3 linked regions of the Homo sapiens genome follow. The protein of the gene in region 3 interacts with the protein of the main gene of each other region in a biochemical or structural test. Each region holds a gene or a part of one and is shown on either strand. Other genes may lie near its edges.

Region 1 (7,023 bases), on a different chromosome or scaffold from region 3:
TTCCACATTGTACAGCTAATCCCAACTTTTCCTAATTCTCTCCCAACATCCTGATTCCAATTTTTTATTGTTCAAAGTCAAGTTCTTCCAAGAACTAAACAAAGGACTAATAAATATTGGCTTTTCTTAGTGTGGGAGGTGCTTCAGCAGTTTAAGGCAGTGAGGGACACAATCATGATCATGATGTGGATCCTATCCCTTAGGGGAAAAGGCTCACACAAAAATAACCACACCATTTGATATAGAGTGTCAAGGGTCACAATACAGTAAGGAAGAACTCACCCTCTCAAGAAGGGGGAAGGCCAGGAAACTTTCAGAAAGTTTTTACAGGTAATCATTAGGCAGAGCCATGGGAGGATTTGTATAATATATTCAGAGGATGGGGATGGGGTGGGGCTCAGCCAATCCTGAAACCACCAGAGCCACCTGAGCGGAACTATTATTAAGCCCTAGCAACCCTTCTCAGGCCCCGCTTATTCCATTACTCTCTTTCCCTCCTTTGCCACCCACCTCTGTTTTAACATTCCTCTTTAAAAAGAAAACCCCAAAATTATCAGTATTGGCGTACTTTTTGAAGATTTTATCTTCACCTCCCCCACTCCTCCATAGACACCCAGGTATGACAAGAGACTCAGTGCTCCTGCTTCCTCCTATTCCTTGCTGCCTCTGCTATGCTTCTTAGGGAATTTACCACTAATCTTTAGGGGATAATATGAAAAAAATAAACATTGGAAAGTTACAAAGTTTTCGTAATCTTAAAAGTTTCAGGTAGACTTCTTTCTGAGCTGGTAATTGAAAAGTTGTTTGGATTTCTGCTGTTTACTTTCGTTCTTGAGGGTGGAGTCACCAGACCTCCTAATATTCTAACCTTGCCCTGGGCCCCAGTGTCAGCCTGAGCACAGGCCCTCTCCCCACCCCTACTTTCCAGCACTTTTCCCAAGGTGGCCAGGCTAGCAGTTTAAATCATCCTCTTCTCAAGCCAGTCATTTGCATTTCTGTGGATCCTCAGGCTAGGTAACAGTGGTTTCATTCCTTCACTGGAAATCTGGAATTGGGCCATTCCAACTTGGAGGCAAAGGACATTTTTGTAGGAGAGAACTTAATTGGCAAAATAAGCTAGGATTTTGAGGACAAAGAGCACAATCTTCAAAATCATTTCAGTGGTATTCAAGGGCCAAAACATTGGCAACAAAGTAGAAACCTCAAGAAATTCCCTTCAGACAGTTTCTTGGTGAAAAGAAAGGCCAATAGATAGAGATGGTGGTAGGGTAGAAGGAAGGTGGTTTTACCAAAAGCCAGATATTTGGAAGGCTTAGGAAAAATCTTTGGAGGAGAGGGTGTAACACATCATGTAAGAGAGAAATTATAATCAATAGAGCAAAATCCTGGTAGAGAGAAGATGGCTCATGTTTAGGAGCATAAGTGGAGTATGAGCCTTGAAGAGAAATGTGGTCACCCTTCTCAGCCATGACTGAAGGAGGTGAAGATGTGTGAAAACTAGGACTGAGGTTTAAGAAAGTTAAGTTGAGGAACCTCATGGTGGATCCTTCAGTAGAGTACGAGGCAAGATCATTTGCAGAAGTGCAGGAAAACCACGTAAAGTGGGGGCTTCAGGAGAGCAGACATTGGACAGGTTTGGAAGTGGCCTGGATAATGTTCCTGGATAAGTGTTCCAGATAATCATCCTCCTGATGAGGAAAGGAACTGAGAATCAGTGAAGACACAGCCAAGTCTGAATAGCATGAACTTTTAGTGGAATGAAGTGATTCTTTAACCTTGTCTAGCAATGCTTAGTAGCGCAGGAGCAAGTTCAAAAGAAACCTTTCAACTAAATACAAAAATAAACAAAAAAATTAATGTTGAGTGGCAACTTATTTCAGGGGACATTATTCATGGTGGATTTCAGTAACATTTTAATTATGACAAACACGAAATCTACAATATCAAAATAGTCATCTGAGAAAAACACCCACACAAAAAGATTATTGGAGTAATAATCTTTTATTTTCTTCTTTCTATGCTAGCCTAAGGCAAGAGAAAAGACCCATTTTTTCTTTCCATTAGACACAACTTTCATTCATTTGATGTTATTGAAATTTAAAAGAAGCAAAATCATTGGTATCTTTTCATTAAACATGTGTCTCATATAACAATTTGTGGTTTACTTTTTCTGTTCTATAAACAAAAACACACATTAAAAAGCCGGAAGAAGTAAAAAACAGCCTATTTCCATGATGGCCAGCCATGGCACAGCACTTCCTGGCCCCTGCTGATCCCTTCTCAATTCTGAAAATATTTAGGGGGAACATACACACGTTCACCTGTTTTGTTCCACAGTCCTACCCTGTGTAGGACTGTCAACTGAGTTCACATTTTACTACAAATGTGGAGAGGTTTTTTTTTTTCCAATCAAGGCACCATATTAACATTTCTTAGGTTACATCTTTGTAATCTTCAATTATAGTAAGATAAAAACCAGTAGCAAAGCATATCACCCAACTTAAAATTCAGAACAATACTTAGACATATGCAGCTTGCACACACATTAACCTGTTTCTCCCAACAAAATATTTGTAATTTCCAAAATCCTATCAGCTTTTTCACACAATATGGTCCCTCCAATTTGAGGGGTAGTAACATAGTCTCCTTACTAAAGAGATTAGTCTAAAAAAAGTAAAATCGCCAAAAGAATGTAAGAATATCAGTGGCTATAGGCTAGAGCAATATCATCTTTTAAAGCCTAATATGTTCATGAAATCTCACTTTAAGAAGGTGATATCTAAACATAAAATTTATTGACAAAAAACAATTAGTATTGATAAACCACCACAAAATGATTTTAAATGAAAGTAGAAGACATTATTAAAGCTCAAGATTTTTGCGTGTACTGATTTCATGCCTCAGGTTATTTCCATATCAAATTTAAAGAGATACTGGAAAATAGAAAACAAAATCCATCAACTGTAATCCATTTCCCTTACTCTTTTGTGAAATCATCACAAGGTGTGAAGGATTGTTTCTGTTTCCTCTATCTTTAACAAGCCTGTAACCTCTCAAGTGAAAGAACATGCACCTGTCAAGCTCATAGTGCGGGATGTACACACAGATGTGTTTAATAAATATCTGCCCACAGGGAGATTAGAGGTTTGCTTTGAGAATCAGGGAACAGGCTAGCTCATGTGTTGACGCTTTGGCATCTATCATACAATCCGCCACCTCGTTCCCTTACCAAAATATCCTCAAAGGAAATCCTCTTTGAGTCTTTCAGAAGAGTTATGAGTTTGAGGACCCAAAACGTTGAGGAAAGATCCACCCCAGGGAAGGGGGAGTGGCTGCAGAGAACAAACATAAGTAGGATTTAGGTGGCTCAGTGACGTCAGGAGGAAGCAGCGATGGAAGGGATGGGGTGCAAACTCACCTGGAGAAGCAGAAGCTGCACACATGTCAAAGGTCAAAGGGCATAGCCTCAGGGACTCCCCAAACGCAGGAAAAGTGAAACGCCCACTCCTGGGCTCTCGCCGTCAGGGGTACATCTAAGGGCTCAGCTGTTCCTACCTTTGACGCCAGGGACAAACCCTACCAGGCACAGTTGGGATTGGCAGTAAGGCAAGGAAAGCCTGCCCCAGATTTCAGAGCCAGCGCTGGGGAATCTCCCTGTCCTCTCCGCCACCCCCTCCCGCGCCCGAGACCTGAGACACCTTCTCTCTCACACCCACCCTCTCCAGGCCCTCTCGCGCTGAACAGCATCGGTCTCTATGGCGACCTGAAACCGCAGCTCCCATTGGCCTGTTCAATATGAGGGCCGGGCCAATGGGGAGGGCCAGCCCTCTCCTTCCCGCCAATGGGGTGGCGGGAGCTGGCCCGGGGACGGCGGCGTGCTGACGTTCCCGGGAGCCCGGGGCTGGCCGGGCGGGAGGGCTGGCAGCGGGGCGGGCGGCGGCGGCGGCCTCTGGGCAGTAGAGGGGGCTCCGGGGCTGAGTCCGCGTCGACGCCGGCCGCGGAGGCGGCACCATGGGCAAGGGGTAGAGGGGCAAGTTGGCCACCGCCGCCGCCGGGGGTGGTGGGAGAGCCGCTCCGGGGGCGGGGGCCGGTGGGGGAGGGAGGGGCGGGCAGCCGCGCCGCCGCGGCACTTTTTTAATTTTTTCGGGTGCCGCAGCGGCGACCCCTCGGCGCCGATGTCCCTGATCCCTGGAGCGACGACGGCCGCTGCCTAAGCTGGAAAGTAAGTGTGTGGGCTCGCGGGAGGGCGCGGAGACTCCTGCCCACGAGACCCTCGGCCCTCGCCCCGAACACGCGCCAGGGCCAGGACCTGCGCGCCGGGGGCCGGGGGCCTCCCTCCCGCTGCCGCGTCCCCAGCGCCTCGCGGCCGCCGCGGCTTTCCTGCCCCGCCTCGTGTTCCTGCCCGCACTCGCCTGCTGCTCCCCTCCCCCCGGCAGGCGCACAAGTTTCACCCTCCATTTGCTTTTCCCGGCGATTCCTCTCCCCGGTCTCCCGTACGCGCAGCGCACGACCTCTGCCCACGCTGGGCTGTTCGGATTCAGAGCTCCCAGCCCCGAACTTGAGCGCCGCGCTGAGCCCTGCTGGACGCCCTCGCGGCGGCTTCCCCGCTGCCTGCCGCCGCGCGCCCCAAGTCGCCCTCGACACCACTGGGCGCCCGCCCTCCTCAGCACTCGGGGCCGGCTGTCTGTCCTTCTAGCCCCAGATCCTGCACCTTGGTCCCCTCCCCGTCTTCCCACGCCCCTGCTGCCCGCGCGGTCTTGCGTTTGTCCCCGAAGTCCTGTACTCCTTGCCGGTCCTGCCCACCCCTCTGCCTAGTGCGCCCCTCTCTACCGGCCGCGGATCCTCACGCTCCACCCCTCCCGGCTCCCCAGCGCCGAGCCTCGCCGCTGCCCTCCTGCGCCGCCGCTTCCTCCTCTCCCTGCCAGGAGTTGAAGCGGAGCTGCGGCACCTCCCTGGCGGATCTGGTATCCCCGCCCGCTGCCGAGGCTGCCGGCCCTCTCCCCTGGACCGCTACCCGGAGAGCGAGCGGCGGGGCCGGGATTTGGCTGCGTGTTGGCTGAGTGCGACACACCGCGAGCGCGGGCAGTGGAGGTGCCGCGGCGGCCGTGGCCGCTCGGGGCGCAGCGGTAGTCAGGTGTGTGTGTACAGCGGGGGACGCGCGCTGCCGGCTCCTGGGCTGGCGACAGATTGTGCAGGAATGCGAGGAATGCACCAGGGGCAGAGTCCACACAGCCCGCCGCGGCTGCCCTAGCGCCTTCCCTCCCCAGCTCTCGCCGCGCAGCCAGAGGTCACCGGAGCATCTTCGGAGCTGGTGAGCCTCATTCCACTCCTCTCCTCCCATAGCTTCCCTCCATGCGGCAGAGGGGAAGCGCGGTAATTCTTTGGGGCTCCAGCTAGCCTTTCGTCTGGGTTTTTGCTGCATTGGTCTTCAGGACCGTGAATTTGGGGCCGATGACTGTGTAGCCAAGGTTATTGATCATTGCACAGGGCTGTTGGCAAGTTTGGTGTGCAAGGTTTGGATAGTGCCTGGTTTTCACTAGGGTTTTCTGAAAACCAGCAGAAACAGGGGGCCTGAAGGTTGTTAGAGTAATGAGCTTGCAGCCAACATATTTTAGCTCTATCAAAAAATGCCTGTTAGTGCTCACGGGCATGTACTGCGAGAGAGATCTTGAATGCATCACTTTGGTATCCTAAGAAGTGTAATTTTTTTCCCTCGTCATACTGGGCTGTGTTTAGACCTCGTATAATACATAATGAATAGAAACAGAGAAGCACTGTTCGGTCAGCGATGGGACAGATAGAACTGTCTGGTACAGTTAAATTCGGGACGTGTCAGTTACCATTGAAAGTAACACGGGGACACCACAATCATGTATATTTCAAGATGTAATTTATTAGTGGAGGTCTCAGTTTTTTCTCTTTGTTACTGAGTTTGACTGAAAAAAAAAAATAAATGCTGCCCTACAAGTTTTAAAGAACGGTAATTATTTACGTGTAAAATCAATGATGGCTAGTATGCATTTTTGGTCAAATTTTGTTTTCCTTAATACGGGAGAGCAAAATTTTGACAGAAAATGGTTCGCTAGAATTGAGCTTAGATTCTTTTTATTTTTAAAGAGAAACTAGAAGAATGCTTCTCTTCTTGAATGCAGTATATTGCTGTAGGAGTATCTTCGTTTTGGTGCCTGTGAAACAGTTATGGAAAATGGCAACATGAAAACGAGAACAACTAATGTCTGAAATAAGTGTTTCTGGGTGTTGAAAAGCATCATATGTGTGTTTTTATTTGACACAATTTGCTTTGCAGGTTGCATTTATGATAAACCTCTTTGCACCTGGTTATTTTATGTCAGATTCAGTAAAATAATAAGTCAGTTGTCTGACCAATCAGCTTTCTTCCAACACCTACTTTGTGTAGATCATGGACATTGAAAACTATTAAATAGGAGCCTTTAGTTAAGGACTCAACAGAAAGGAAAAAAAATAGAAAAAAATATTTTGCACTCAGAAACGTTTATGTTTTGGTTGCTACGTTGTTTTTCAGCTATGTGCATAATCAGTGAATCTTCTAATTTAGAGGTTTAATTTGTGTCCAGTAACACTGTGGAGGATATTGGGAGGTGTTTGTAAATGCCAACAGGAAACTTTTATTATGTAACAGTATCATATTACAGCAGTGTTTAACCCATGCTTAACCCGTGCTTTTTTGACTTGATGTCAAGATTGGGAAGTAAAAGCAAATTTAGTTTCCCTGCCGCATTAGAAATTGAAAACCCTGTTCAGATGTATGGATCACACACACACACACACACACACGACACACACACACACGATTGGCTGTGCAGATAGTTTTGCCTGCTTCAGGTAAAGGTAACCTTTCAGTTAGAAATGCTTTCTATTTGTTACAGATATTCAAAGAGTGGAAGTTTTTCAACTAGTGATCCTACACAATTGAAAATAACCGAAATTGTATTTTGACCAAAGTGCATTCCCTCCCCACCCCCTACTATTATGTAAGGAGAG
Region 2 (7,119 bases), about 20 Mb from region 3:
TGGGCCAATTTTGTATAACTTACAATATTTGAAGTGGTATGAAGAAACAACAAGAATTACTTCTACGGATGGATAAAGGAGAATTCTTCCTTTAGGCAATAGCCAATAGCATGAAATGTAGCAATATCTTTACAACCACTATGGAAGTGGGCATTTTATAAACACATTAGTAACAAAATTCAGAGATTTAGTTTTATAGGCAAGAAAATCTTTTGACTCTAACTCTTACCCCCCACCATTACTGTATTTTTGAAGTGCATCAAAAGTTCCAGAGAATATATTTTATACTTAAATGTTTATTATGATTAAGCTTCCCAAAGCATTTTCACCTAAATTATCACAGCACATTCAACAAAGCCCTGTGAGTTTTTATCCCAAGGAACAAATGACAAAATAGGCAAAGATGCAAAGTCACAAGAGAAGGCAAGTGCCAAGCACGATTTAGATCCCAGAACTTGGCATCCTAAGGCAGTGGTCCCTCCAGGGTGCTGCAGTGTCTGTACCCAAAACCAACCCAAAGCAAGCAAAGAAACCTTGGTTCAGAAACCATTTTTGCCCCAAATGATGAACTAAGTGTTTGTTACATGCCTACTACTATCCTATGATTTGTGGATCAATTATTTTAAAAGATAGATTACCAGTATGGGGTGGGGCTGGGGAGAAGCATGGTCCTATGTGACCAGAGAGAAGGAGTGTGTGCCTGAGAGCAGGGGGAGAAGGTAGAAAATCATGTGTTTGCCTAAAAACAGTGTCCTGGCTCTTCCCAACGAACTTGAACTTGAGAAATGAGACATCCCTGAAGAACACACAGTCAAGTGCCAGAACCACACACAAAGCACTGCACCTGTGAGCCCCGGACTGCCACAAACACCTTGCCTTTTCACACAGTGATCCTGGAGTCTGTGCAGGTGCGTTTATGCTTCATGTGGGAAAAGCAAACGCCAGAATTACAGAAAAGCATCTGGCATCTGTATTATTTCGCAGTAGAAACAGCTAATGTGTGTTGTAATAGTGAATATACCACATACTCTGCTATGTATTTTAAGTCCATGGTCTCTTAATTCACCGTCGCAACAACCTGAAGACACAGGAATTATTGTTTCCCCTGTGTTATGACACTTAGTAGTAAAATAACCGTTCACTTAGAAAATGATGAAGTTGGGATATGAACTCAGTCAGTTGGGGTACAACTTTGAAGCTATTTTCTCAACCATTTGCTCCACTGCTGTATTTACTACTGGGACACACGAAATCAGCAAGCAGTAAAATGTTTCCTTAAAGAAGAACTCCTGTAGGACAAGTGAGTAAGTTTAACTTCAAGCTTTAGAATTATGCTCCCAAAATAGGAACCAATAAAATGATATATAAACTGTTAAGACATGACAGAGTGACATAATTACTATAGACAAACAATATAAATCAATTTTAAAAAAGGAAAATAGATAAATTGAGAAATGTGTATAAGATATAAAAAGATAATTCACAAAAAAATTAGACGTAGACACCAACAAATTAGAAAATATTTAACCTCAGGAATATTAATAGAGAAGCAAATGAATTAGAGAAAAACACAATATTTCTCCTATGTAATTAGAAGTTTTATTTTTCTCATTACAACACCCAGTGTTGTTGAAATCATGGGAAAATTTGTACACTCCTGCCTTGCTGAGAGAAATATAAATTATATAATCTTCCTGGAAGACAAATGAACAACATATATCAACAACCTTGAAAACATCCAGTTCTAGGAAGTAATCTAGAGTAAATAACCTGATGACAACTATTTAGTTATTAGGATCTTAATTACAGCATTAAATATAACTACCAAAAATGAAAATGTCATCAATCTCCAATAACAGAGTGATGTAAGTAAATAATGTTATATAAAGGTATGGAAAACAGACACTAAAAATAAATACTAATTACATGAGATGTTAATAGGTAACTAAACAGAATATGAGCAATGTTTTCTAAATTTAAAAATGTGTATCGCTTGATATCTCTGCTAAAAATATGGTCATTTCTGGGGCTTGCAACCATGCATGAATTTTAACTTCTTTTAATCATTTCTGTATTTTTGAATTTTCAATGAGCATGCACTACTTTTGAAAACAAACAAATCTCAAATTTAAAGGCGAGAAAATGTAAGTATGGCTGATCAAAATCTGTGTAATCTACATTCCATGATGAATGACCTTTGTTAACTTTAAGTCATGCATTCAGCTAATTAATGAACTTCACCCCAAAATAAATATATACTATTCTTTTCAAGAATGGAAAGGCATGCTTTTCTTCTGCATAATGTAATATATATATTAAACTATGATATATTTAGTGGAAAAGTAATATATAAAGAACAAAACTCTTGAAACCCTGACATAAACACTGTGTTCTCAGTGTTCTCACATTTGGGAGTGGGTATGTGTGCTGGGTATCACATTCAATATAGTTATTTGCCTTGATTATCTTCTTAGCTTTAGTATTATGAATAGTTCTCATATAATTAGCTACTCTGAAACTATAATTCATAATTGCATATTTCTTTGGCTAGAGGTGCCATAATATATCTATGCACCTGCTATGAATTTAACATTACTCTTTTTCAACCTGAGTTAAGCAACACAAATAATCTGATCCAGATGCTACAAGCCCCAGCCTTCCTGCATCAACCTTCCATGTCCTGGGTTAATGAGACAATTTGTACTATCTCTGAGACTTTTTATATAACACCTGTCTGTCTTTCTGGAGGATTCTTCTTCCTTATTTGGTTTCCCCATGACCCCAAGAACAATGCTCCACACCAGTGAAGACTGTGTTAGAGATGAGAGATTGAACTGTGGCTCTTTTACATTTGGAGCTACCAAAGAGGTTGCTCTTTCTGGAAATTACATTATTGTATACTGTTGAAGGTAATGACTGCTATATTAGTCTAATATTTGAAAGTCCAAATAAAATATGTGACAGAGGATAAAATTTGTTTTAAAAAGTGAGCATTTTTAGATTGAGTAGTCATGCTTAGACTTAAATACAACATCGTATCTATTTAGAAAAGCAATGTTTATCTTCTTTCTTTACTGTGTCCATGATTTCTCCTATTAATTGCAAAACATCAAACAGCCACCAAAATCTAATTATTTATACTGAGGCAGAAAAAGCTGTGGAAAATAGCTAGCCTAGATCACTTATATATGGTTTGGGAAGTCAGATTTTAACATCATCTTTTTTATGTCTAATTCTCACCACTTACAAAGCGATCCAATTATTGGCAGTTAAAGAATAACATGAAAAATAGGGGAAGAACGCCAAGGGTAAGTTATTTTAAAGTTGGCTATACATAAATCTGCTGAATTTCATGGACCATAGTTGCTACAAATCAACCAGGGCATTAGACGCTACCTTGATAACTCTTGATGTAGTGTCAAAATACCATGAAATATTTAAAGAGCTCAACTACCAAGCAAAGTACTGTGAAAGCTACTATATCCAGAATTCTATCAACTAGAATTCTTCATAAACCATGCCAATGGGGAACACTTCTTCTCTATTCTGATATTTCCTTTCAGGCAAAGGGAACTTAATTAATGTAACACTGCTGGCCTCTCTCCAGCTTTTCACTTTCTCTGCCTCTGAAGAATAAAGAAGCAGCTTGCCTTGCTGCTTCTCTCTTCCTCTGGAGATCATCCTCCCTGCAGAGAGCAAGGCTTGGCTCTGCCAGCTCAGAAAAAGCTCTGTCCCTGTGGGGAGGGAGGAGGGAAAGAAGGCAGAGGACCTGGGATGTAATTCAACTGCCACACCAAGCTATGTCTAATCAAAACTGATATTTTTGCCCATGGCAGCCAATTATTTATCTTTTTCCCTTCCAATATCCCAACATGCTGAGATGGGGAGTGGGGAGGAGGAGAGCTTGATATTTATTTGATTCCTTAAAGACACCAACAACCCACATTCCTGCACATTTTGTAATTCTTAAAGTAACTATATACCTTTCTGTGGTTTATGTAATTGCATATTTAAATGCAAAGAGATAATACAATAAAGCATTTGTACATTATAAGGAGGTTTCTAAACCAAAAGAAAGAACTGCATAAAACATGCACAAAATGCAGTTTTCTTAAAATTTCTAATGACAGTTGTGATAATCACATCTGTTAAACCAAAAATGTTACTAATACACTTCTCTGGCCTTTACCTAGGCAAGAGAAGTGTATTTTCTAATATCAATGATCCAATTAATTGTTCCCCCATCATCTAGTGTTATAAAGTAAACATCCTATTTAGTAACATTTCTGTATCATTCAAAACTTGTAGAAATGTTACATATATTTATTTAACCAAATATAATTGGCTCACCTGCTTACTTTGATCCAAAAAAACAAAAAAACCCAGTAAGGCCTTTTATCATAACATGTATTTTGCTCTGGTAACTTATAATTGGCAGTTCCCACAACAACACATAAATTTGAATACAAATAACCACATTTATTGTAAAAATGTTTTTCTGACTGAAGATAAATTTGTCCCCCATTATACAGCTCACATTCTGAAACAAATTCCAAGATACATCGAATCGTAATTATCCTAAAAATTATGTTGCTGAAGATCACAGTTCTAAATGAAGCCCCTCTGGGTTTGATCATCCCAAGGAGCTGGACATCTTCCAACCTGGAAGAGCTGGGCACTTTTTTGTCTTCACTGAAGCTCTTAAGAGTGAAACAAAGCAAAAATGACCATCTATTTTCAAAGAGGTACCAATTCACACACTTTTTAGTTCTCTTCAAGGACTTGATTTTAATTGGGGAGGGGGTCTTCCCTTTATGTAATACATTTAGCTGTTTAAGGTTTCTTTTTTCTCTATCATAATGACATGATGATGAGATTCATGCTCGGTGGTTCTAAACAGAGCGGATGTGTAATATCTGACCTCACAGAGAGTGATGCTTATTAAACTGTCTATGATAGTCTTTGTACAACATTAATCTTTGTAGAAAATTTGATCTTAATCAGGTGACTAATATAACACTAATAAAGAATATCAAAGTTTTGTAATTTCTACTGGGTTAGAATCTTTTATAATAATGGTGTTGGGAGATATAATTTACTTCTCCTTTAGCTTAACTGCTATATACTTTAATATATAAAGGGCTGGTATGTTTCAGAATAGAAAGTTTAGCATATTTTATAAGCAAATCTGCATAATGAAGCAATATTACAATAGGGGTTGGGGTAGGGAAATTACAGCCATTTAATATCCTTTGTTAGAGAGGATGGTAACCTAGATAACCTATTTAATTAGATATGTATAAAACATTAGTACCTGTCTTAATATGTATATATTGATTTCTTGTGTTCACATAAATTTTGTAATTTACAAGCCACTTATCCATGCTCTTACTCACTTTATCCTCAAAGAAATCTTTTAAGATATTGTGTCTTATTCTACCCATTTTACAGCTGAAGAAACTGAGTTAACAACTGAGGATCACATAAATGGTGAGGGATACACAGCTAAGAAGAGACAGGGCTGGAATCCACCAAAAGCCAGTGCTCTCTCCACATCTCTGTACCCACCAGAAGCAGAATGCAAAACAGCATTACACTAGGGAAACTTATTTTTCCAATAATTGTCATTTCAGATCACAAACATATTTCTAGAGAAATAGTTGGGCTCTGACATATAACGTGTTTGTGTGTGTGTGTATGTGTAACTTTATTACAAAATATTGTAATATATAATATATAAGAACCCAATAAAATGTTTCAATATATGTAATTCATTTTGCACGTAATGTGCCAAGAGAGACAGGTGAATATTTATCTAAGATAGAAAGGTTCTAGGAAGCATTGTTTCACTTATTTAGTCATTATTTCCAATTTGTCAAAAACTAATTGATACAGGTACTTCAATATCCTGACATAGCTAAGACACTTCCTACAAATCAATTAACCATGATTCAGAGCTTGGAATTGCACTTAACTGCTATGTGATCAAAAGATAAACAACTGGAGGTGTCATAACTGCAGATTTTTGTTATGAGTCTTAATATTTAATGGACTAAAAAGCACAGTATGATAAAATATTTCTGTGAGTTCCCTGTGTTGGAGGTACTGTTTGTGACTATAACTGAGTTTATTAAACCCAACCAGGCAGTTTGTTAATCAGTAGGCTGGATTGGCAGACAATGTGATAGAAACTATTTATTGATGACATGTTTAATATTTTATATTAATATAAAAAGCTGTTGCTTTGGCATATAATCAGATAACTTGAAGCTAGCAACAAGTATCATGAACTGTTCCTACTCAAATTAACTTTTCACACACCAGAAGGCTATCAAAGTACTGTGGACAGGAGAACACCTTCAGAAGATGAATGAGGAAAACCATCATGGAAGCCAACAATGAATTTGGCTTGGCAGTGTATTTCCAACTTGCAAATCAGCCAGCAAAGAACCACACCTTCAGCTGAAGTACTGGACTTGAAAATGACTAGCAGTCCATGCTTAGTTTTTGTTCATTGTCTGAATTATGACATCCAAGTTTAAGTACTCCCAACTATGTTAAGTCTTTTAAAAATAAAAACTCTGTTAGGAAAAGTGAGACTAGCATCAAGGATTTCCCTCTAAGAAGTGAAAATAATGTTCGCACAGAGAAAAAACAAAAATGGGTGTTCCCATTTTCTGTGGCTAATCATAAAGAAGAAAACATTGGAAGTTCAAAATGTAACAGTTTCTATTTTAATTCAATTGGCTTGTTACAGCTGTATACACTGGTCCATACATAGTGTACTGACCCTATGGACAAATTACAATAAATTATTTCAAATGTAATGTTAATGTTTTCTTAAAGACAACCTGATGAAATTACTCTGAAAACCCCTTCGACAAGTCCACACAAATTCATACCACACAAGAAAGAAGTCTGATAAGGCAAAACAGAAAAGAGCAAGTTCTGTAACATTTTCTGCAAATACACTGCATATTCAACTAAATGCCAAAGTAATATTATATTTGAGATTATAACTTCATTTTTAATTTTAGAAACTATTATGAAAGCAATATTATCCTTAGAAATTATTTAACAAAACTATAAATTGCATTTGCAAACTAGTATTTGAATTTC
Region 3 (7,518 bases):
TGGATGGTGCAGTAGGAGAGACCTTCCAACAGAGATGCCCCCACCACCATGGTCCGAGTCACTTAGGCCCACATGATCAAAGGCAAGGGGGTATCCACAGCTCTGTGTTATCTTGTTCAGCTCACCAGGCCTGGAGCCTCTGGGAGAGGGTTTCCACAACACCCTACAGTATGATCAGCCGGGGGTAGTGGGGTCTGGGGTGTTCCCTCTGCCTCTTTTCCTGTCTAACCTGAGGAAGTTGATTAGCAACTGTTCCAGGCCTTATCTGGGTATGAAAAAAATAAGGCCCTAAAGAAACACACCCAGGGCAGCATGGTGAGTGTGCTAAAGGGTTGTGTAGGAGCAGAACGAGGGGCCAGGTTGGGCGCAGTGACTCATGCCTCTAATTCCAGCACGTTGGGAGACCAAGACACCAGGATCACTTGAGCCCAGGAGTTCGAGACCAGCATAAGCAACATGGTGAAACCCATCTCCACAAAAAACACAAAAATTATCTGGTTGTGGTAACACACACCTGTGATCCCAGTTACTCAGGAGGCTGAGGTGGGAGGATTGCTTGAGTCTGGGCAACAATGAGACCCAGTCTCAAAAAAAAAAAATATCTCACACATCTCCCTACTATCTGGAGAACTAAGTTCCTCTGAGTCCTTAGTTCCTCTGAGTCCTTAGTTCCTCTGAGTCCTTAGCACTGAGTCCTAACTCAGGATCAACCTCTCGACTTCTACCTAAGAGCTCCTCCACAAAGCCTTTCAGATCCTCTCTGGCAAAAGTGACTTCTTTTTCCTCCATACTCCCAAAATGTTTTATTTGGACCACTCTTCAGGTACTTTACTCACTTAATTATCTCTTCACTCCTTCATCCAATAAACACATGGCGTCTACTACATGCAGCATGTGCACTGGTCTGCACCATAGTGCTTAGCAGGCTTCTCTCCCTTCTCCTGCTGGACAGAAACTGACAAACTGACAGCAGCGAGGGAGCATCTTTCATCTAAGCATATCCTGGAACCTCGAAGCCTCCTCAGCCTCCAGCACAGCAAACCACAGGTATTCCAAAAATAAAATGATTGAAATGAACAGAGAAATTATCATAAGTTTCCTTAAATAGTAAACTGCCATAAAGTACATGCAAAATCAATTTCAGCGATAGATTTAAAGTATAATTCAATATTTTTCCAGGAGCATATTAACTATGTCAAGGTAGGTACATTTATATACTTTACATGGTTCTGATTTTTCCTCTCCTAGCACCTGCCACCCCCCTACTCCTACACCTAACCCCCGCAACACACACACTCACTCACACAACTAGGTGGTTATTATAGGAGCAGAAGCTCTGGGCCCATCCTAATGGAAGAAGGAATTCATGAAGCCAGAACCACCACCTACAGCCAGGGGTGTGTTCTGAGACATTCTCTTCTGCCCCCACAAGCAGCACTCCCACTTCACACCTGCCAACCTGTACCTATCTGGCCACCACCCAGAAGTCACAACCCACAAAAGCTGGCCCAGTAGAGATGCCAGGCCCCTAAAGCCCTCCAGTGTTCAGAGACCCCACTGGAGAACAGGCCCTGAAGGTCCAGGGGGTCTCTCTGCAAGGACAGATCAGGGCATCACTTACTGCAGCCACTCAGCAACCACTTCCAGTAGTTTCATTGCGATTTGTCAAGGCAAACATATCCACCTACCCTACCTTTGGTGGAGGCAAGAGGTTAGGCCAGCTGCAGGGGACAGACTCAGACTCAGCTCCATCCCCCAACACTGCCCAACGGCCAGTCCCAGGGCAGGTCTGGAGCTCTGGAATGCCCTCGTGCCTGCCATTCCAGTCTCTGCGACCAGCCCATGCCAGACCTTGTCCTCTTCCCACTCCAGTGTCCCTTATCAAGGTCTCTGCATAGATTTGGGCTGCCGAGGACAGCTTCTGGCAAACTCCTGCCAGGGGTCCTGGACCCTCCTGCTGCTGAATTCAGCCTTGCGCTTTAATGGATTTTCCAAATAGCGGGGACCACAGGCAGCTCAAAGACTTAAAACACAAACGCAAACCCGAGGGAGGGAGAGAGGAACAGAGGGAGGGAGAAACCAGATTTTAGGAGAAACTCGACTTCAGAGAGAGAGCAGGATTTCCCTATCACTATGTTCCCCATCTCCCCGGCAGACGCCAATAACCGGCCCTAAGATGCCCTTGATCTTTGCGCGCCCCCTGCATTCCCTCGCCCCGCGTCTAACGTCTCATCTGGGCAAAGAGGCGGGGGTTGAGAGATGAAACAAGCCCGAGGGAGGATGGTCCCCAAGACATTACCTGAGGCCGGAGTACCTGAGTACCTCCACTCCTGTCGGAGGAAGGGACCAGAAGACGGCCCAGGGATGGGGACCCGGGATGCGCGCCCGAGCAGGAGGTCCCGGCCCTGTCTTGAGTACCCCCGGCAGTGCGTCTCCGGTTGTCCCGCTGTCTCGGTCCCGCTCTGTCTAGCCCCCTCCCCTGGGCTGCGCCCTCCCCGTCCCCGGCCGGATGCTAGAGGAGTTTGCGCCGCCCAACGTGGGACCCCGGTTCGGCGTCCTCACTCCCCGCCCTGCCAGGGCTGGGATTCCCGCACCCGGATTTGTAGCTAAACTTTCCTGGGCACACACGGTCTCGGGGGTGCCGGGCCTCCCCCATCCCCTGCCCACCCGGAGCCGCGCGTCCCGGCTGCAGCGGGACGGTCGCTTCACCTGCTCGCGGCTTGGCCGAGGCTCCCGCGGCTTCCTCGCGCGTCCAGACCCAGGCGCCGCCCGGCGGGTCCCCGCGCAGCTGCCGCCACCGCGGCCACCACCGGTGCCGCCGCCGCGCCTGCCCCGAGCTGCAGAGCCGCGGTTCGCCGGCAGCCGCGGGAGGCGCAATCCCGGTGCCTTGGGTTCGGCCTGCGGCTCCTCGGCTGCCTGCAGCCGCCGCCCCGCCGCGTCCCGCTGCCCGGGGCCGGCACGCACCGGCGCTGGGGTCCGCTCCTCGCCTCGCTGCGCAGGGGATCCGCCGAGCCTCCAGGATGGGCGGGGATTCCCTCCCCCTGGTTGATTCGAGGGGCGGGAACTCCCTTCCCCGAGTGACAGGGACGGGGGGCGGGGATTCCCCTGCAGGAATAACAAGGTGGGCGGGGATTTCCCCGAGCGAGCCCCGCCGCGGGCAAGGCGTCTCTCTGGGTGAGCCAGGAGTCCTGGTGCGCCCGCTTCAGAAACCTGGGGATCGTGGGAGGAAGGCATCCAGGGAGATGGCTGCTCCGAATCTCCATACAGGCGGGGCTTAGGGCGCCATCTAGGTGGAACAGAGCGAGCTAGGGGACGTGAAGTTGCCTCTGCATAGCACTTTACACAGCAAAGAGAAAAATGTCAGTTACCTTATCAAAGAATGGGGCGGAGGGGCCACAGGAGATGGGGGAAGAGCTAACCACTCACCCCAAGCTACCCTTAGCCTCTGGTCCTTGGGATACCAAAGGTAATTTAGCACTGGTACGAGGATTTCGGGGAGAGGGGACCTCTTGGCACCTCAGAGCTGCTTAATCCCCCAGTTAAGCCCCTGGGGGGGAATCCCATGGCCCTGGGGTGGTGGTTTTGGTCCCATGAGCACTAGCCACGAGCTCCTGCCGAGTGGACTGTGAGAGCTAATGCCAGCCGCCCTTGGCTCCCGTCCAGGTCACTCGAGGAACCGAGCCTCAGGCTTTTGGGATCCTTCATTCCGGTGGATTTTCAGGAAGGCCTTCAAATATTTTTGGTTCTTTTTTTGTCATCCTTGTCATTCTGCCTACCAAAGGGAGAGGATGATAAGAACATAATAGGAAGACTGCACAGCTCTGCAAATTAAGCTCTCTTAAGAGGAAAAAGCTGGTCTTTTTCAAGTGCTGGCAGATAAGAGTAAAAACATATGAAAAATTGCAAAACCTGGGATAATGAATAGTTGAATAATGCTTTTGACATTTTCTACAGAACAGTAATTGGAAATCTTTGCTTTCGGGGGGATGGGGATGGGACAGGGCAGGCCCCAGCTGCAGTTCTGCCCAGCAAGGCAATAAACTCTGGCCTCTCCGAAAAGCAGGCAGACATAAATCACCTGCGCAGACCGGACAGCGCTGTCCCACCACACCAGAGACCAGAGTGGGCCCAAGGCATTTGGAGGTGGTATTGTCCTCAGGGGCTGGGGTGGAGAAGTTCTTGATTTCAGCTGTTCTTCAGCTTTTATAATTACCAGGCCATTGAGATCAATGCTTGCACAAATCCAAGCATCGTATATGACAAGCTGGGCACTCAGGCACTCAGAGCTTCTCTTCCTATGTGTAAATAGAGAAAACACCTACCATGCAGGATTGCTGGAACTAGCAGTAACACAGCTATTCAGCACAGCACTTAGGAGGTGCTCAATGAAATGGTAACCATTATCAATGAAAGGTATCATTGGGACACTACAAAAAAATCCTTCTAGAAGGATCAAACAGGGCTGGTGCTTTCTGTTTTTTCCACAATCCCAGGCCCATCTTCCACCACTCTGTCCCGTGTTTTCTCAGCCTCTGTACCCAGCACATACCTTGGGCCTACCTCCCTCAGCACCAATGAAAAGTTTGCTGAATCAATGAATATGCAAATAAATGTATCACTCAAACTGTAGTCACTGCTATTTCTTATCCACTCCATCCCCAACTCTTTCATTCCAGCCATGTACTCCTAATCTGTAAATTCTGTTTCCTCTGCCAGAGTGACATTCTCACTCTCCTGTGTCTGCTGAAATCCCAAGGAGGTAAATGTCATCTCTACTGGAAAGGCTTCTCTGATCATCAGAACAAACATCACGTTTCCTCTGCCTTGTTAATTGCTGCAATGGTAGCACTTTATGCAAATTGCTCATCTAACCCTTGTCAGGTGTATTATGTTGTAGGAATTATGGCGTTTTGTCTCACATATTTCTAGCTTGTGAGTTCTTGGAGGTAAGAGAACTTAAAGCTTATTGTTTGTGTTCCCAAAGCCTAGGGTGGCATGGTGTCCGACCCAATAGCCACTCAATAAATATTTGCTGAATTAAAATGAATTGTTAGGTATATACATGTATGTTATATGTGGCATATATTATGTATAAATACAATATATACAGATGTATTTTATAATCTGTCTCCTTCAGACATGGCCCTGCTGACCTGCTTTAAATACTTCGTTTCAATCACTTTTCAGCTGATATTTTCCAGATATTTTTGGCAAGTTCTTATCTGCTAATAATAGCTCAATTCACAGAGGTCAATCAAATGCATGGAAATTTTGTTTTGCCCTTGCAGTCTTGTCAATTTGGAAAGCTGACAACTGAGGGCATTTATTTTCCAATGTTTGAAGATCAAAATGTAAATCCTTTTTGCCCCCTTGTTAAACATTTAGTCACAGATTAGTATTTCTATCAAAGTTGCCATTTTAATTTAGTGCTCATAATATATGTGATGTGGAGGAGGAGGAGGCTGTATATAGAATATCTAAGACTTCAGAGCAAAGGAAGATTAAAATGATAAACAAAGAAAAAATGTGTGATCCCAAGCTATATCAGTGACAGAATGTAGCGTGGTTTAGGTGAGTCCAAGTAGATTCTCATGGATTGCAGTGCCATGTGGTTTACTTCTGAGCTTTCTCCCTCTATGAAGAAAAATCTACAGACCAGGCAGCTGAAACTAAAACTGGAGGTTTGCTTACCAACTCTTGAAAAGACTGCTTTCCATCTTTCCGCCTCAGCTGCTCTTCCAAGTAAATTTCAAGGGAGGAGAAGTAGCCTTAGTCAACAACTGGCTCAATTCCCTTTCTCCTCCCAGCCTCTGTGGGTTCATTTTATCTCCAAAACAGATTCTAGCTTCCTGTTTACCTAGCGAATTACCCTTTTTTCTTTCTTCCACAAATTCCTGGCCACTAACTCTTCCATTCATGACCTCACGCTAGAACGAGCCATCTCCTGGCCAAGAAAGGGGCTTAAAAAGAACAAATGAGGCCAAGTGCCCTGGCTCATGCCTGTAATCCCAGCACTTTGGAAGGCCGAGAGGGGCGGATCACTTGAGGTCAGGAGTTCGAGACCAGCCTGGCCAACAGGGTGAAACCCAGCTTCTGCTAAAAATGCAAAAGTTAGCTGGGCATGATAGCGGGCGCCTGTAATCCCAGCTACTGGGGAGGCTGAGGCAGGAGAATTGCTTGAGCCTGGGAGGTGAAGTTTGCAGTAAGCCAAGATCACGCCACTGTACTCCTCTCTGGGAGTCAGAGCAAGACTCCGTCTCAAAGAAAAAGAACAAATGAGTGACGATGGTAGTAAAACATTAAGTCAGTGGATCTCAGTCTGGACTACACTTAAGGATTCCCAGAAGTTTGAAAATTTAAAAAACTCCAGACTCACCCCCTGAGATCACTATATACTTGGTCTTTGGGGAGCCCCTGGATGCCCCTTAACCAGAACCCCAGTGATTGTAATTTGGGTGGCCCACACAGGATAACTTGGAGAAACACTGAAGTAGAGTGACATGACAGCTGAGAGGGTGCCCAAGGTCACATTCCAGTACTTGGTCATAGTACTGTAGAGATAAGACTTTATTTTAAACATTGATAAAAATGTTGTAATATTTATCCCGTCTCAGATGAAATATTTTATTTAGCCAAAACACAAAAAAGGACCTGCATTTGATGCATACTGGTTTTTTTCTTTTTCTTTCTTTCTTTCTTTTTTTTTTTTTTTGAGATGAAGTGTCGCTCTTTTTGCCCAGGCTGGAGTGCAATGGCGCGATCTTGGCTCCCTGCAACCTCTGCCTCCTGGGTTCAAGTGATTCTCCTGCCTCAGCCTCCTGAGTACTTGGGATTACAGGTGCCCACCACCACCCCCAGCTAATTTTTGTATTTTTAGTAGAGACAGGGTTCCACCATGTTGGCCAGGCTGGTCTCAAACTCCTGACCTCAGGTGATCCGCCTGCCTCGGCCTCCCAAAGTGCTGGGATTACAGGCGTGAGCCACTGCACCCAGCCCATACTGTCTTAAAATATATATTTAGGGGAAAGGTTTAAGTAAGCACTTTTCATCCACGTACATTGAAAATGAGTTTCACTGTATCCATGAGCGTGACGTTGGATTTTATGCAAATGTGTTTTATTGTTTCCAGTGTGGTCTAATAATACTGCACGTGAAGAATTTGTAATTTTCTCCTGGGCTTCCCCTTACAAGCCAACCCATTATTTTATATCTTTGTCTCTCAGCCTTCCATTTGTACTATTGAAGCATTGGTTGCCACGGTAATTTTTTTATACAATTTTTGGCAGAAAAAACTGAATTACAAACTAGTAACTACAGACCACGTATGACTTTCACAATTTATATAGATGATTCAATCATTTTGCAATAGGGTAGAGTGTAGTGTTTATCCAAGTAGATTCTTTTGGACTGTGGTGGGATTTGATTTACCTTTGAGTTTACTTGCTTAACACACATTAAGACACCAGCAAGACAGGCCTGGCGTGGTGGCTCACGCCTGTAATCCCAGCACTTTGAGAG

What was found.
Region 1: the proteins of PDZD2 (region 3) and PKP4 form a complex in vitro, tested with the Homo sapiens proteins (2 studies listed by BioGRID and IntAct, with this or other methods).
Region 2: the proteins of PDZD2 (region 3) and CTNND2 form a complex in vitro, tested with the Homo sapiens proteins (2 studies listed by BioGRID and IntAct, with this or other methods).

Annotation. Positions count from the first base shown.
Region 1 is NC_000002.12:158,452,997-158,460,019, forward strand, and holds the start of PKP4 (plakophilin-4), read left to right. Parts: upstream 1-3,955; 5' UTR 3,956-4,134; coding exon of another isoform or gene 4,135-4,458; exon of another isoform or gene 4,459-5,311; intron 5,312-7,023. Other genes in the region: CCDC148 (coiled-coil domain-containing protein 148), read right to left, coding at 3,419-3,443; uncharacterized protein LOC124907900, read right to left, coding at 4,135-4,458. UniProt on the Homo sapiens protein: Plays a role as a regulator of Rho activity during cytokinesis. May play a role in junctional plaques.
Region 2 is NC_000005.10:11,894,330-11,901,448, forward strand, and holds part of CTNND2 (catenin delta-2), read right to left. Parts: intron 1-7,119. UniProt on the Homo sapiens protein: Has a critical role in neuronal development, particularly in the formation and/or maintenance of dendritic spines and synapses. Involved in the regulation of Wnt signaling.
Region 3 is NC_000005.10:31,634,629-31,642,146, reverse strand, and holds the start of PDZD2 (PDZ domain-containing protein 2), read right to left. Parts: upstream 3,017-7,518; 5' UTR 2,710-3,016; intron 1-2,709.